Linked DNA regions of Homo sapiens: region 2 is linked to region 1. The links come from fine-mapping of genetic effects on gene expression. Tissue or cell type: kidney cortex. Region 1 holds a variant in brackets; the other region holds the start of a gene. All regions are shown on one strand. Distances are from middle to middle.

Region 1 (2,758 bases):
AATTATAAGGAGAGGGACAACAGGGATAGGAGAAGGGTCTGGGACAGCAGCTGCTTTTTCTTGTTTTTGGTCCTTTCATTACCCTTCTAATATTTTATCATTAGGCTGAGCGGATTATTAGGGGGAATATTATCATTGCTAGTGTATCCTTTTTATCCCTTACCTTACTTGGGGTATTTCCCATTTTTAGTGTGAGGCTCAATTCCCCTTGCTAGAAATGTCTTGCCTATTTTTAACCCTCAAGATACCCCAACCAGGGAATACTTCACCGCCCCACCTCCTCCGTGTCTTTTCTTACCTTGATATGTCCTGATCAAGGAATACCACCACCCCCTGTGGCTTCTCTTACCTTGGTCTGTCCCAACCACCAAGGAAATACTTTGCTGGCTCCCAGGCGTTTCCTTCCTCGGTCTGTGCACAGAGTTGCCTGGTCACTGTGGTGTGTGAGGATCCTTTCCCCTGGGTCGCCGGCTGGTTTCTTTCGACATTGCTGAGTCCAGGTTTATTTGTCACACCAGGTGAGTCTCGATTCCTGACTCTTGAGGCCACCGCAACAAGGCAGTGGGGCGTGAGAGAGGAATAGAGGCCACCCCTAGAGGAGAATAGCTCCCCATATGGGCCACGAGATTGTTAGAAACAAATGCCTGTTCCTTGGTGCTGCAGAGAAATAGCACTTGAACATAAATTTAATTTTCTCAGCCAGGTAATTTTTACTTCTATAGAAGGGTGCGACTCGTGGTTGGAGTAATGGCGAAAGCACACCTGAACAAGGGGAGGGAAGCGGTTCGTATTCCTGGTGCAGGTAGTCCCTGCTGTTGTGTCATTCCCCTATTGGCTAGGATTGGACCGCACAGTGTAAGCTAATTCCGATTGGCTATTTTAAAGAGAGCAGGGGTACAAGCTGGAGTGACAGGGTGAGAAGTTTGGCGGGAGGGGTGGTTACAGAACAGTTGACTCAGGATGATTCAGGTCAGAGCAGGTGACAGGGGTGACTCAAGATGGAGCAGGTGACCAGGGGTGACTCAGGACAAAGCAGGTGACCAGGGGAACAGATGTGAACTACTGATTAGAACTGGCAGGAAACTTGTTTACTGAAACTAGAGGCAAGCGGGGCAATAGAACCAGGAAGTTAGACTTTAAAATGGAGAATAAAGAGAGCTGAACATACTGACATAGTGATTCTTTGAAAAGAAACTTGGAGTTCACGATCTTTAACAAGAATATCTAGTTCTTCCTGATTTAAGCCAGGAGGGTTGTATCTTTCCAGGAATTTATGCATCTCTGCTAGGTTTTCTAGTTTATGTGTGTAAAGGTGTTCATAGTAGCCTTGAATGAGTTTTTGTATTTCTGTGGTGTTGGTTGTAATACCTCCT[A/G]TTTTGTTTCTAATTGAGCTTATTTGGATTTTTCTCTTCTTTTCTTGGTTAATCTTGCTAATGGTCTATCAATTTTATTTATATTTTCAAAGAACCAGTTTTTGTTTTATCTTTTGTATTTTGTTGTTGTTATTTAAATTTCATTTAGTTCTGCTCTGATCTTGGTTATTTCCTTTCTTCTGCTGGATTTGGATTTGGTTTGTTCTTGTTTCTCTAGTTCCTTGAGGTGTGACCCTAGATTGTCTGTTTGTGCTCTTTCAGGCTTTTTGATGTAGGCATTTAGGGCTATGAACTTTTCTCTTAGCACTGCTGTATTAGTTTGTTTTCATGCTGCTGATAAAGACACACCTGAAACTGGGAATAAAGAGAGGTTTAATTGGACTTACACAGTTCCACATGGCTGGGGAGGCCTCAGAATCATGGGTGGTGGCAAAAAGCACTTCTTACATGGCGACGGCAAGAGAAAAAATGAGGAAGAAGCAAAAAGGGAAACCCCTGACAAACCCATCAGATCTCGTGAGACTTATTCACTTTCATGAGAACAGCACAGGAAAGACCGGCCCCTGTGATTTGATTACCTCCCCCAGGGTCCCTCCCAAAACATGTGAGAATTCTGGGAGATGCAATTCAAGTTTAGATTTGGGTAGAGTCACAGCCAAACCATATCATTCTGCTTCTGGCCCCTCCAAATCTCATGTCCTCACATTTCAAAACCAATCATGCCTTCCCAACAGTCCCCCAAAGCCTTAGCTCATTTCAGCATTAACCCAAAAGTCCATGGTACAAAGTCTCATCTGAGACAAGGCAAGTCCCTTCTGCCTATGAGCCTGTAAAATAAAAAACAAGCTAGTCGCTTCCTAGATACAATGTGGGTATAGGTATTGGGTAAATATAACTGTTCCAAATGGGAGAAATTGGCCAAAACAAAGGGGTTAAAGGGCCCATGCAAATCTGAAATCCAGTGGGCCAGTCAAATTTTAAAGCTCCAAAATGATCTCCTTTGACTTCAGGTCTCACATCCAGGTCAGAGTGATGCAAAAGATGGGTTCCCATCGTCTTGGGCAGCTCCACCCCTGTGGCTTTGTAAGTTACAACCACCCTCCCAGCTGCTTTCATGGGCTAGCATTGAGTGTCTGCAGCTTTTCCAGGCACATAGTGTAAGCTATTCATGGATGTACCATTTGGGGTCTGGAGGACAGTGGCCCTCTTCTCACAGCTCCACTAGGCAGTGTCCCAGTAGGAACTCTGTGTGGGGGCTCCGACCCCACATTTCCCTTTGGCACTGCCCTAGCAGATGTTCTCCATGAGGGCCCTGCCTCTGCTGCAAACTTGTGCTTGGGCATCCAGGCGTTTCCATACATCTTCTGAAATCTAGGCAGAGGTTC
Region 2 (2,758 bases), 47 kb after region 1:
GGGCCTGCTCTGCCCCACTGGGGTGTTCTTAGGTGGAAGTGGGTGTGGGATGGTCCCTCTGGGAGAACTCTCTCCCTCCAGCCTCCCTGCAGAGTCACCCAGGGAACTGAATCACAGCACAAGTGAAATGGGAAAAGTTCCCTTATCCCCCTCGCAGGGCCTGCAATGGGGGTGTGGCTCGCTTCTTTGGTACCCTGCTGCTCAAACCTCTAGGGGGAGCATGCAGATGGGCAGGTTGTGGGGCTTCAACCCCACGGCAGTGTCTAGGGGTGAATGCTTACAGTTCCTGAAGCCCCAATGGGTGTGTGTTACAGAGCGCTCTTTTAGTTTTGCTATCTGTAGGCAGCTTGTGTTAATCAGCTCGATTAGATCCTCTGCCTTATCACAAGGACAGAGGGCTTTCTGTATCCCAGGGTTTTTGCCTTGGTGTACTGGAGGAATCAGATCACACGTGGGCTTAGGGACCGAGTGCAAGTTTTTATTGAGTGGAAGTAGCTCTCAGCAGATGGGGGAGCCAGAAGGGAGATGGAGTGGGAAGGTGAACTATCAAGATAAAATCAGTCTACTACTCCATAACAGAGGTAAGGAAGAGTATGCATGGAATACAGGACATCCTTTAGAGCATCTCTTAGTATTACCATGCCCTTTGATTAAGGTCAATGGGAAACTACAATAGCGCAATCCAGGCAGGACTACAAATAGCCCAGACCCCTCAGGAATGAAGGTTTGGGTCACTCCACCAGGAAAAAAACCACAACCTGCTGAGGTGCTTGCTGAAGGCAAAGGGAATACAGAATGGGTAGTAGAAGAAGGTAATCATCAATACCACCTATGACCATGTGACCAGCTGCAGAAATGCGGACTGTAACTATCATGAGTATTTCCTCCTTCTTTGGCTAAAAACATGTTTGTGCATGTATACACTTGTACGAAGAAAATATATCCATTTTATTTCCTTTTCCTTTATCATGTGACATAAGATTTACTGACTTCATATCAACATTTAAGTATTATTAACTTTATGTAATAATATTTGGGTTGGGGATTGGTGGGTTTCCAGTTGTACCAAGGATAGTTGTATTATTTTAGGCATAATTATGACCTTATTATTGTCTTTATTTGAAGATTATGTATGATCTCAGGAGATGTGTATGGGTTCAGCTTGACAAGGGGTGGACTTACCATGGTTAATACTGAGTGTCAACTTGATTGGATTAAAGATGCAAAGTATTGATCCTGGGTGTGTCTGTGAGGGTGTTGCCAAAGAAGATTAACATTTGGGTCAGCGGGCTGGAGAAGGCAGACCCACCCTTAATCTGGTGGGCACCATCTAATCAGCTGCCAGCGAATATACAGCAGGAAGAAAAAGGTGAAAAGGCAAGACTGGCCTAGCCTCCCAGCCTACATCTTTCTCCCATGCTGGATGCTTCCTGCCCTTGAACATCAGACTCCAAGTTCTTCAGTTTTGAGACTTGGACTGGCTCTCCTTGCTCCTCAAGCTTGCAGACAGCCTATTGTGGGACCTTGTGATCATGTAAGTTAATACTTAATAAACTCCCTTATATATATATATATATCCTATTAGTTCTGTCCATCTAGAGAACCCTAACACAAGTGTTTTCTTCATTTTCCTTCATATTTATGAAGTGTGCTTTCTTGCCATCCTTTCCAGACTCATCACCTTATGTTATTAGTTGACTTTTTAAAAATCATTATTATTATTTGAGATGGAGTCTCGCTCTGTCACCCAGACTGGAGTGCAGTGGTGTGATCTTGGCTCACTGCAACCTCCATCTCCCCAGTTCAGCCGATTCTCGCGCCTTAGCCTCCTGAGTAGCTGGGACTGCAGGTGTGGGCCACCACGCCTGGCTAATTTTTGTGTTTTTAATAGAGATAGGGTTTCACCGTGTTGGCCAGGCTGGTCTCAAACTCCTGACTTCAAGTGATCTGGCTGCCTTAGCCTCCCAAATCGCTGGGATTACAGGCATGAGCCACTGTGCCCAGCCTCTAACTCTCTTTTAACATAAATTAATTCCTCTTCCTATATTTGTTCTCAGTGCTATTGACTTCCTGAAGAAACTGTGTCAATTCTCATGTAGAGTTTTTACACTAGGGATACAGTCACTTGCTTCTTTATACTTCATGGGATACCTTGTAAGTCTCCAGTGCATCACACCTGGAGGCATATGATGTCTGCTGGTCTTGCTTTTAATGATGCTAAGATCTATCTTTAGGTTCAGGCAATGGCAACCTTACCCTTCACTGAGAAGTTCTCCATCAACCTTTCACTGAGTGATTTTGGCATCCATTGAAAACCATTGCTTGAATCAGTTATTTTCTTAGGGGCTTAAAAAATGATAATTTTCTGATTCTAATTTTTTCTTCATGTAGTAGCTGAAATTCTTCTGCATAGAAGAGCTTTCCTTCATTCATTTTGGCTATTTAATTACCAGAAAATGCAGTTAGGCATAAAAAATGCTTAATTCTTTTCCTTTAATTAACAATTTTTAGAGTAATAAGTTGGTGCCCCAACTTCCCCAACGGTGCCCAGTAACTTTTATTTTCTTTCTGTATCTTCTTTTCTTCTCCTGCTCTTTTTCATCTGCTGGCTAGAAGTAGGGTACTTCAATACCCTAGGAGATGGCAAGACCTCATGAAGGAAGTTGCCTGGGTCCCTGAATGACTACATGGAGCTAATTCCTTCCTGTGACTTGGGGAAGAATGGGACTGTGATGGGAACAAGAAATGAGCTTTCTTA

What was found. PIP is the estimated chance that this variant, and not a neighbour inherited with it, causes the effect. A credible set is the group of variants that fine-mapping cannot tell apart.
Region 2: it holds the start of LINC01226, and the variant in region 1 is the best candidate, but not a certain one, in a credible set for the expression of LINC01226 in kidney cortex (GTEx, PIP 0.76).

What each region holds. Positions count from the first base shown.
Region 1 is chr1:31,470,717-31,473,474 of GRCh38, forward strand. It overlaps LOC124903900 (a long non-coding RNA gene), which reads right to left and starts at 760. Exons shown (of 2, transcript XR_007065585.1): 1 at 350-760. It overlaps LOC105379772 (a long non-coding RNA gene), which reads left to right and starts at 402. Exons shown (of 3, transcript XR_001737618.2): 1 at 402-518. RefSeq lists an enhancer at 46-1,245. The variant A/G (reference allele first, on the strand shown) is at 1,374.
Region 2 is chr1:31,517,303-31,520,060 of GRCh38, forward strand. It overlaps LINC01226 (long intergenic non-protein coding RNA 1226), which reads left to right and starts at 1,133. Exons shown (of 3, transcript NR_027085.1): 1 at 1,133-1,534.